Homo sapiens: one gene and its partners. The protein of the gene in region 3 interacts with the protein of the main gene of each other region in a pairwise test. Each region holds a gene or a part of one and is shown on either strand. Other genes may lie near its edges.

What was found.
Region 1: the proteins of CLCA4 (region 3) and MCFD2 interact in a two-hybrid assay, tested with the Homo sapiens proteins (one large-scale study listed by BioGRID).
Region 2: the proteins of CLCA4 (region 3) and THAP4 interact in a two-hybrid assay, tested with the Homo sapiens proteins (one large-scale study listed by BioGRID).

The regions. Positions count from the first base shown.
Region 1 is NC_000002.12:46,905,807-46,909,455, reverse strand, and holds part of MCFD2 (multiple coagulation factor deficiency protein 2 isoform A precursor), read left to right. Parts: intron 1-278; 5' UTR 279-284; coding exon 285-433; intron 434-777; exon of another isoform or gene 778-1,486; coding exon 1,487-1,646; exon of another isoform or gene 1,647-2,572; intron 2,573-3,649. UniProt on the Homo sapiens protein: The MCFD2-LMAN1 complex forms a specific cargo receptor for the ER-to-Golgi transport of selected proteins. Plays a role in the secretion of coagulation factors.
Region 2 is NC_000002.12:241,627,097-241,630,745, reverse strand, and holds part of THAP4 (peroxynitrite isomerase THAP4), read left to right. Parts: intron 1-3,649. UniProt on the Homo sapiens protein: Heme-binding protein able to scavenge peroxynitrite and to protect free L-tyrosine against peroxynitrite-mediated nitration, by acting as a peroxynitrite isomerase that converts peroxynitrite to nitrate.
Region 3 is NC_000001.11:86,545,710-86,550,021, forward strand, and holds the start of CLCA4 (calcium-activated chloride channel regulator 4 precursor), read left to right. Parts: upstream 1-1,368; 5' UTR 1,369-1,410; coding exon 1,411-1,569; intron 1,570-3,559; exon of another isoform or gene 3,560-3,576; coding exon of another isoform or gene 3,577-3,582; intron 3,583-4,312. UniProt on the Homo sapiens protein: May be involved in mediating calcium-activated chloride conductance.

The DNA of each region.
Region 1 (3,649 bases), on a different chromosome or scaffold from region 3:
AGAATAATCTTCCAGTCCCTTCAAGCTTTCACGTGTTGCTTGGCACTCTGCAGGCACTTCAGGAAACCTCGTGAGCCTTCCCCTGCCATTTGAGTGACTTGGAGTGCCCAGGGTCATCCCACAGTCTCAAAGCAGAGCTGGCATTGGGCCGTGTTTGACAAGCTCTCTTCCTAACCTTACTGCTTCATCAGGTTTCCCAGGATCATACCATGTCAAGCCCTGAACGAAACCTTTGCTCTGATGCTCTGCCTTCCTCTTCTGTGTTTCCCATCTCACAGATATTGATGACCATGAGATCCCTGCTCAGAACCCCCTTCCTGTGTGGCCTGCTCTGGGCCTTTTGTGCCCCAGGCGCCAGGGCTGAGGAGCCTGCAGCCAGCTTCTCCCAACCCGGCAGCATGGGCCTGGATAAGAACACAGTGCACGACCAAGAGTACGTATTCAGCCCGGGCTGTGGTCCAGTGGCCTCCCCATCATCTGCAGCTGAGCCAGCGGCAAGGGCATGCTCAGTCCTCCTTTCCTTCTTCCTGTTTCTATGGCTCCTTGACATTCTTCAAGGATGATTCTTATTCCTTATTGCCACCTATAAGTCAGGTATTCTTTTTTCATCATTGTATCACAGGTGGAAGATCTTTAGGCCCAAATGGGGCACATTACTTGTCTGAATCCGGTCTCTCCTTTTTTTCACCACAGACAGACACACACACATACAAATAGACACACAGGTACACATACACAGTCATAGTAGCAGAATCCAGAAAATAGCTAAGGTTTCTTGACTATAACAAGACCTTTTTTAAATCAACACATTCAAACATTGAATCATTTGTTGCAGCTTTTGTCTTGGGCCAGTTAGCCTCACGCATTATACTCGGTTATCCTTTGTTTTTAAGGCTGGGTGCAGTGGCTCACACCTGTAATCCCAGTGCTTTGGGAGGCTGAGGCAGGTGGATTACTTGAGCCCAGGAATTCGAGACCAGCCTAGGCAATATAGGGAAAACCTGTCTCTACTAAAAAATTGCAAAAAATTAGCTGGATGTGGCAGTACATGCCTATGGTCCCAGCTACTTGGGGGGCTGAAGTGGGAGAATCAACTGAGCTTGGGAAGTTGAGGCTACAATGAGCCAAGATCACGCTCCTGCACTCCAGCCTGGGTGGCAGAGTGAGACCCTGTCTCAAAAAAAAAAAAAAGTTTTAAAGGACATATTTTTAAATTGATGGCCTGAAAATGTTATAACAAAATTCTAATAATAAAGAGGAAAGAATACCCTAATCCTGCCAGCATAACAGATGGTCTATTTGACTTTTCCTGCTCCTCTCAAGGCCTTGTCTATCTCTGTGTAATCCTTGAGTGTGGTCTGCCACTGCTGGTGTTTGTTTTTCTGAGCTGGAGGAAGTTTAAGATCTTGAACTTTTCAGAGTCCTTAAGATTTCAGCATGATCCCAGTATCTGTCAATTGGCCTGAACCTGACTGTTGATTTTTAGGCATATCATGGAGCATCTAGAAGGTGTCATCAACAAACCAGAGGCGGAGATGTCGCCACAAGAATTGCAGCTCCATTACTTCAAAATGCATGATTATGATGGCAATAATTTGCTTGATGGCTTAGAACTCTCCACAGCCATCACTCATGTCCATAAGGAGGTAGGTCTGGCAGTGGCTTGGGGGACTGTATCACAGAAAGGCTTCCCTTTGTTAATTTGGTCCCCAGTCTTGTTGACTTGTGTTGTCCTTATGTGCCAAGAGTGCTGCTTCTCCACTGGGCATGATGGCTCGCATCTGTAATCCCAGCACTTTGGGAGGCCAAAGTGGAAGGATCACTTGAGCCAGGAGTTCAAGACCAGCCTTGGCAATATAGTGAGACCCTGTCTCTACAAAACAAACAAAACAAAAATTAAAAAATTAGCCAGGCCTGGTAGTGCATGCCCGTAGTTCTACGTACTCAGGAGGCTAAGGTGGGAGGATTGCTTGAGTCCAGGATGTCGAGGCTATAGTGAGCCATAATCATGCCACCGCACTTCAGCCTGGGCAACAGAGTGAGGCCTTGTCTCAAAAAGAGAAAAAAAGAAAAGAAAAAAAAAGGTGCTGCTGCTTCTTTCTCTTCTGTGTTCTGCCTCTTTCTGTCCAACGATCCTTCCCGCAAAGGATAACTTGCTGAGGCAGAAGTCCCAGGGCTGGGCATTTGTATCTTTAAGTGCTACAGGCATTTCTGTTACACACCAGAGTATGAGAATCAGTGCCTAAAAGACAGACCGTATTCAAACTGCAGAGCAAGGGAGAAGTTGTTTAATGGTGAATTGACACCAAGGGATTCAGGGACGTGGCAGTAATTGAGGGCTTGTGTGATACTGTATGGTGCTCCAAAGTTTCTGAAGCCCTTTCAAGTAGGTTAGAGATCTCGTTGGATCTTTGCAACATCTTGAGTAGGCAGTGGCAGGCATTGTTAATACTTCCATTTTCAGTGGTGCATGCCTGTAGTCCCAGCTACTCATGATGCTGAAGTAGGAGGATCACTTGAACCTGAGAGGTTGAGGCTGTGGCAAGCTGCGATGTTGCCACTGAATTCCAGCCTGGGCAATAGAGCGAGATCCTGTCTCAGAAAACAAAAAACAAACAAAACCCTCCCATTTTCTAGGTGAAGACACTGAAATCAAGATCTTGTGCCAGGCTAAGCACAGTGGCTCATGCCTATTATCCCAGCACTTTGGGAGGTTGAGGCAGGAGGATCGCTTGAGCCCAGGAGTTCAAGACCAACCTGGGCAGCATGGTGATATCCCGTCTCTACAAAAATTAGCTGGACATAGTGATGCTTGCCTGTAATCCCAGCTGCTGGGGTGACGGGGTGGGAGGGTAGTGGGGAGGAACACCTGAGCCTGGGAGGTCGAGGCTGCAGTGAGCTGTGATCGTGCTACTGGACTCCAGCCTGGGTGACAGAGTCAGACCCTGTCTCAAAAAAAAAAAAAAAAAAAAAAAAAAAATCCTCGTGCCTCCACATTTAATGTCATTCCCCTTCTGCCACACTGCCCTCTATAGAGAGGAAGCAAGGCAAAGTTAGCCAGGTGAGTGGGATTACATTCGCTGCTAGGAGTGCAGGTGAGGTTTGAAGGCAGCAGGGAGCATGAATGATTTTGCACAGGAGAATGGCATTGTTTAGGGAAGATCCTTGGTTGTGGGAGACAGACTGAAGGACATGAGGAGAGACTAGTGTTAGGCGGAGGAATTAGGGGTCAGCAGTCCTGGCAGATGAGGATAGTGGTGGTGACAGGAGAGGGAATGGTGAATGTGGGAGATGTGGCAAAGGAAGAACCAGCCAAGGATGTGAACAGCCTCAGCCCACTAACCCTGCTCTTGGAGCATGGGAAATACTTTCTCCTCAAAGATCATAACAGGTTCTGCTCATCGGCAGTGCCTTCTTCCTCTTGTTTTGATGCCAACTTGTTGTCCAATTCGTCACTGTTTCTATTTTATCAGGCAAATTTGTGCACAGAGCTGACCCTCAGGAGGACTGGCACTTTTCCAATTAAAGAAGAATGAGCCATAATGAAACAAATAAGCAAAAGCCTATTTTGAAGGGCCTTCTTTTAACTGGCAAATGTAATTTCTAAACTGGATTATGATAAATTGACTCAATAATACATATTCTCTCT
Region 2 (3,649 bases), on a different chromosome or scaffold from region 3:
GTGCAATGGTGCAATCTTGGCTCACCGCAACCTCCACCTCCCGGGTTCAAGCAATTCTCTTGCCTCAGCCTCCCGAGTAGCTGGGATCACAGGCATGCGCCACCACACCCAGCTAATTTTGTATTTTTAGTAGAGACAGTGGTTTCTCCATGTTGGTCAGGCTGGTCTCGAACTCCCGACCTCAGGTGATCCACCCGCCTCGGCCTCCCAGCTTCTCTTGGAATTTTAAAGCTGTTTGTAGTTATCAGAGCTAATGCTGCTTTAGACAGCTTCTCTCTGTTCCTCTTGGTTAAACTTCCTGAAGTTTGTCTCCATTACAGGTTTTTGCAAACAGCCAGCCCTTCGTGTCTCTGAGTTGTTGTTTATGCTGGTTAATCCTTACATCTTTTTGCTTTGTTGGGTTTTTTCTTGTAGTTCTGGTTCCTGGCGTGTTCCTTAACCCTGCAATGGAGGCTGTGGCTCTGCTGTTCCTTGGGCTGCGTGCCATGGATCTGCCTCTCTCTGCTTTTGTTGCTGTTCATTTCTGAGTCGTTTGTAATTCCAGCCTCGATGCCCCCTTTAACCCTGTGGTTATTTAAAAGGGTGTTGACAGATTTTTCAGTGCACACAGATTGGGCGAGGGGAGCAAATTTTTTTGTAGTTACTTTAAAATTTGATTGCATTAAGGTCTAATGGTAAGGACTGAAGGAGTTCTGCTTTTTGGAATCCTTTGAGACTTCACTGTGGCTAACACAGTCCCTTTTTGTGACTGTTGCAGTGTAGTGCTAGAAGAATGTATCCTCACCACTCCTTGGTTATATTGTTCCCGCCTGAAGCTGGGCACTTGCTTACTTGTGTTAGTCAGCGGACCAGAGCGTTCCCTAGCTTCTTGTCAGGCTCTCGGTCTGCTGATTTCCAGGAAAGGTGAGGTAGACCTCCCCTGTGGTTCTGGAGGTGCCCGTTTCTGCTTGTATGTCCAAGTTTTGCTTTCTGCCTCAAGACCATGCTGTTTGATGCATAAGTTTTCCTGTTACCAACACAAGAAACTCCTTTTTGTCCCGTTTAACGTCTTATTTCTTCATTTCCTTATTTTCAACCTTTTCATCTTATTTTATAGTTATATTTTTAACTCAATCCAAAAGTCTTTTTGTAGAGTAATTTAGTCATTTACAATTGTGATTACTGATAAGTGGGAATTCGGGCCTACCTTTTTAATTTGTTAGGCTTCCTCACCGTTTTCTTATTATTCTTCTAGTGGATATGTTTCAATTTTTTCTTTTCTTTTTTTTTTTTTAAGAGACAGGGCTTTGCTCTGTCACCCAGGCTGGAGTGTGGTGGTCCTATCACAGCTCACTGCAGCCTTGACCTCCTGGGCTCAAGCCATCCTCCCACCTCAGCCTCTCGAGTAGCTGGGACTACAGGCACATACCACCACATCCGGCTAATTTTTAAAATTTTTTGTAGCAATAGGGTCTTACTATGTTGCCTGGGCTGGTCTTGAACCCTTGGCTTCAAGGGATCTTCCCGTCTCAGCCTCCCAAAGCTCTGGGTTTATAATTGTGAGCCACTGTGCCCAGCCCATCTTTCAGTTTTAAAAACAAACACGTGAGCCCCTCTTTGTGTAACTGTTGAGAGCTGATCGGTCCTGTGTGCCACCTTCCCTAGGTGGAGGCTGTATGTCATCTTAGTTCCGGTGCTTCTTATTCCCCCATCAAGCAACCATGATTATTAGATTGAAGTATACATTTTACTGGTTACTTTATTTACCATTGTTTGCTGTATCCAAGTTTCCCCTCCTTTTTGGCAGTATTTAATGACTTTTTTTTTTTTTTTTTTTTTTTGAGACAATCTCAGACTGGAGTGCAGTGGCATGATCTCGTCTTACTGCGGCCACGACCCCCTGGGCTCCAGCGATCCTCTCACCTGAGCCTCCTGAGTAGCTGGGACTACAGGCATGTGCCATCATGCCCGGCTAATTTTTTGTGTGTTTTTTTGTTTTTTTGTTTTTTTTGTTTTTTGTTTTTTTTTTTGTAGAGATGGGGTTTTGCCATGTTGGCCAGGTAAGCCACCGCACCCAGCCATGACTTTAAAAAAAAAAAATCCTATTCCAGTACAGTTTTGAGGGGGGCGCTGGTGACTGTTGTGGCAGTCCCAGGGTAGATGGCGATGGCTCAGACTTTAGGGAGGAAGTGGCGGTGGTAGCAATGCTGGAGTACTGGCTGGGTTCAGGGGGTTGAGAGGCAAAAGATCAGCAGGCCAGCTACAGGGATTAGGCTTGAGCACCTGGAGGATGCTAAGTGGGAGAGGCTTTTGGGGAGGAGCAGGAGATGGGGGTGAGGAACGGAGTTTGAGATGCTCTTGGGTGCTGAGGCCAGAGTTTGAACAGGCAGTCTGAGGCCAGCAGCTGGCCTCTGGGATTTGGGCATGTGAGTGTGGGGGTGGAGGGCAGAGGTGTTTGAAGCCTTGGGGGGTCGAGTGTGGTTCTAGGCTGGGCTTCAGTGCCCGGCCCAGGAGCAGGCCTCGCTGAGAGAGGGGCAGCCGAGGCGGGTCCAGGGGAAGGCTGAGGGGTTGTTCAGGAAAGAAGGGTGACTTGCTGTGCTGGGTGCTACTCTGACCAGAATGGAGAGAAGGGGGCTGGATGTGCCCCAGGATAGTGGAGAGAAGGGGGTTGGATGTGCTCCCAGGGTCGCTGGTTACTGGAATCTCACTGGAGAGGCTGGTGGAGCTGGGCGGAGAGGGGGCCAGTGATGAGGGGTCAGGGCCAGGTTTGGCCGTGAAGTGGAGTGAGGCAAGTAGACAGGAGCCAGAGGGAGTGTGGCTCCAAAGAGAGTGTGTCAGTGGGGAGGGCTGTGAAGGGCCAGGCTCTGGAGAGCAAGGGACAGGTGCAGGCACCACCCTGCATGCCTTGTGCCCCTCCAAAGGTGAGGCCAGGCCACGGCTGGGCATGCGGTGTGGGCACAGGGGTGGCAGGAGCGAGGGTGTGGTGGGGAGAGGACATCCTCTCCCTGGGGTTGCAGTCTGTCACGCCGGCGTCGCAGGCCCTGGGGTCTGCACTCTGTGGTTCTTGCTGTCCGTGTGGATTTGTTCTTCAGTGACAGACTCTTTGGGTCATTCTTTAGGGATTTATGTGGAAAGCGCCGCACACTTGTCTATTCAGCTCGCTAGCCAGTGTCTGCTTTTGGGCAGGTTCCCCAAACTGAAGGATGCGGGCCAGTGGGCTTCAGAGGTGGGTTGAAGCCACGCTCCAGAGGCAGTGCCCGGTGGCGTTCTGTGGACGTAGTGTTCTTCTCCGCCAGCAGCGATTCCTTGAGGGTACATTGTTAGCACGTCTATGAACCACGTGTTCGCGGTCTTGCTTGCCCACTGAGTTATAAACGTTCTTGATACAGTAAGGATACCAACGCCTGTTAAATATTATTCACCTGTTTCCTAAGTTCAGCAATTTAACACTTGCTTCAAAATCTGTTTTCTTTTTATTCCTTTATGGATTCATTATCTACATATAATTCTTGAAATCTGGATTGTCAAAATCCAAGTACAAAACAAGTGAACCTTAATGTAAACTATGGACCCTATTTGTAGCAATGAATCAGTATTGGTTCGTAACTTGAGACACACATACCCACACTAATGCAAGATGTTAATCATAGGGGAACAGGGCAGGGGGTGA
Region 3 (4,312 bases):
TATGAAAAAATGCTCAACATCACTAATGATCAGAAAAATGCAAATCAAAACTACAATGCGATACCTCCCTACTCTTGCAAGAATGGCCATAATCAAAAAATCAAAAAATAATAGATGTTGGCATGGATGTGGTGAAAAGGGAACACTTTTACACTGCTGCTGGGAATGTAAACTAGTACAACCACTATGGAAAACAGTATGGAGATTCCTTAAAGAACTAAAAGTGGGCTGGGTGTGGTGGCTTACACCTGTAATCCCAGCACTTTGGGAGGCCAAGGTTGGTGGATCACGAGTTCAGGAGTTCAAGACCAGCCTGACCAACATGGTGAAAACCTATCTCTACTAAAAAACAAACAAACAAACAAACAAATATACAAAAATTAGCCGGGCATGGTGGCACACGCCTGTAATCCCAGCTACTGAGGAGGCTGAGGCAGAAGAATTCCTTGAACCCTGGAGGCGGAGGTTGCAGTGAGCCGATATCGCGCCACTGCACTCCAGCCTGGACAACAGAGTGAGAGTCCATCTCAAAAAAAAAAAGAACTAAAAGTGGAGCTACCATTTGATCCAGCAATCCTAGCAATACCACTCCTGGGTATCTATCCAGAGGAAAAGAAGTCATATATGAAGAAGATACTTGCACACACGTTTATAGCAGCACAATTTGCAATTGCAAAATATGAAACTAGCCCAAATGCTCATCAATCAACCAGTGGATAAAGAAAATGTGATATATATATATACACATATACCTACATACATACACACACACCATGGAATATTACTTAGCCATAAAAAGAAATGAAATAATGGCATTTGCAGCAGCCAATTTCAGAAATGGAAAACCAAACATCATATGTTCTCACTCATGAGTGGGAGCTAAGCCATGAGGATGCAAAGGCATAAGAACGACACAATGGACTTTGGGGACTCGGGGAAAAGGATAGGAGGGGGAGGTGAGGGATAAAAGACTACACATTGGGTACAGTGTACACTGCTCGGGTGGTTAGGTGCACCAAAATCTCAGAAATTATAATTAAAGAACTTATTCATGTAACCAAACCCCACCTGTTACCCAAAAACCTATTGAAAAAAAAAAATCCCTGTTGTCAAGGAGCCCTTAGAATATCAACAATGACAACAATAAAGAAAACGTGTTCCAACAGGAAAATGTGCAATGCATTTTATAAAATGATCTGATTTATTCTGACTCTTAGTCACTTTTATGTAACATATAATTAAGCAATCAGGTGAATTAGTCATGTATTTTCTCATGTAATGTACCTTTATACAGTCAACATCCCATAATCAGCCAATACTGGTAAGTTTTAGGAACGTATATAAAGAGAAAGAAAAGAAAAGCCTCTTGAACAAACCAACATTTGAGCCAGGAATAACTAGAGAGGAACAATGGGGTTATTCAGAGGTTTTGTTTTCCTCTTAGTTCTGTGCCTGCTGCACCAGTCAAATACTTCCTTCATTAAGCTGAATAATAATGGCTTTGAAGATATTGTCATTGTTATAGATCCTAGTGTGCCAGAAGATGAAAAAATAATTGAACAAATAGAGGTAAGAACAAAATGGAATATCTTTCATTAATTTTTAGTTTTTTACTATTATTTTTAATTGACATATAATTGTACATATTTATGGCATACAAAGTAGTATTTCTATACATGTATACAATTTGTAAAGATCAAATCAGGGTAATTAGCATATTCAGCAACTCAAACATTTATCTTTGCATTGTGTCGGGAACATTATAATTATTCTCTTCTAGCTACTTTGAAATACACAACAGATTATCAGTAACTTTAATTTTCCTATTGTACTATCAAATACTAGAACTTATTCTGTCTACATAACTGTGCTTTTGTACACATTGACAAACTTCTCTTCATTTCCTTTCTCTCCCCTATCCTTTGCAGCCTCTAATAAGTATCATTCTACTCTCTATCTCCATAAGATACCCTGGTTTAGTTCCTGCATATGCATAAGAATATGTGGTATTTATCTCTCTGTGCCTGGCTTATTTCATTTAACATAATGTCCTCCATGCTCATCCATGCTGCCACAAATGAAGCAATTTCATTTTTTTCAGTGACTAAGTAGTATTCATTTGTGTTTATATACCACACTTTATCCATTCATCTCTTGATGGACACTTAGGTTGACTTCACATCTTGGCCATCATGAATAGTGCTACAATAAACATGGAAGTGCAGACTGATGTCTTTTCCCTTGGATATATACCCACTAGTGGAATTGCTGAATCATGTGGTCATTCTATTTTTAGATTTTTGAAGAACCTCCATACTGTTTTCCATAATGGCTGTATCAACTTACATTTTCACCAATGGTATATAATAGGTCTCTTTCTCCACATCCTTGTCAGCACTTTTTTTGTCTTTTTGGTAATAACCATTCCAACTGGGCTGAGATGGTGTCTCATTCTGGTTTTGATTTGCATTTCCCTGATGATTAATGATGTTGACCACTTTTTCATATACTTGTTGGACATTTGTTTGTCTTCTTTTGAGAAATGTCTATTCAGATCATTTGCCCATTTTAAAATATTATTATTATTATTACTTTGTCTTTGAGGTTTTTGAGTTTCTTGTATATTCTGGATAATAATCCATTGTTGGATGAATAGTTTGCAAATATTTTTCCCAAGAATTGGGATGTCAGCCAGGCACGGTGGCTCTCATGCCTGTAATCTGAACACTTTGGGAGGCCGAGGAGGGCAGATCATGAGGTCAGGATTTCGAGACCAGGCTGGCCAACATGTTGAAACTCCGCCTTCACTAAAAATACAAAAAATTAGCTGGGCATGGTGGCACATGCCTGTAATCCCAGCTACTCAGGAGGCTGAGGCAGGAGAATTGCTTGAACCCGGGAGGCAGAGGTTGCAGTGAGCTGAGATCACGCCATTGCACTCCAGCCTGGGCAACAGAGCAAGACTCCCTCTCTGGAAAAAAAAAAAAAAAAAAAAAAGAATTGGGATGTCTTCTGTTTGAATTATGGAGAAGAAAACAAAGTTAATAGTTAATAATTATTATGGAAACTTCTGAGTCCTTCAGGAAGTTAAAAGCAGTGTGGTGCAGTGAGGACAATATGGTAATGGGCAGAGGGAGATGAAGGTTTTAGACAGGGTTCTACACTGTGTCACCACAAGACAGAAGACAAGGCACAGGGCTCCCTGACACTGAGTTTCTTGATCTGTAAGTTAGCAGTTGGACTCATTTGTTCTTTAAAGAATTCTTTGTTGAATGTTTATGACATGCTAAAGAGCAGTAAAATTTTTTTAAAGCCTCTGGCACCATGCAGTGTATCTTCTTTTCAGAGATATAGTTAATAAGTAAATGGATCACAGGTCAGATGGTGGTAGTAGGTTGCTGTGGAGTAAAACAAATCAGGAAGGGGGATATGGAGTGTTAGGTGGGGCTGGATTGGGGGAGAATGTGGGTTGCTATTTCATGAGGGAAGTCAGGGAAGGCCTCACTGATGATGTGTCAGCACAGACCTGAGATGAGCGAGAGAAGAGCCCATTGAAAACTAGGGGAGAAAAACAGCATGGAGGTGAGAATTCGTTTGATGTAACCAAGGAAACAGCTATGAATGAGCAGGAGGAAGCATAGGGTGAGCTGAAGTTAGAGAGGTGGCAGGGCCTAGACCACCAGAAAGACTTTGACTTTGACTCTGTGATGAAAATCCATAGGAGGATTCTGAGCAGAGAAGGGTGTGTTCTCATGCATGTTCAGGAATCACTCTGACTGCAATATTAAGGACTGTAAAGAATTTCCACTTGTCACCCATCCTCTATAAACTCTGTGGCAGCTTACTGGTGTAGAAGGACCCCAGGTAGGAAACTCTTGCAGGTGGGCAGTGATGGTGACTAGGAACAGGGAGGTTGTGGTAAAGATTGTTAAAGTGATATGGTGGTTAAGATGTATAGGGGATAGGTGAGGGTAGGAAGGAAATATAATAAGAGTCAAGGAAGAATTCAAGAGTTTTGCTTGAACACTTGGATTGAGAAGGGGAAGACTGTAAGTGGAGAAAATTTGGCATTTGGAAAATCAAGAGTTAGTTGGTTGGGGCTTTTGGAATTTATGTTACTTCTGAAAACATCCATGTAGATGGAGGCAGGAATCTGAATTCATGATGAAGAATGAAAATTTGGGTGTAGATAACTAGGCAAGTACAGATGGAGAAGAGAAAGGCTCCAGGACTAAACCAAGGACACTGATTTCTGTTTCTTTCAAATATAACATTCTATGTAATATAGAGTTTGGTGGTGTAGCCACGTAAA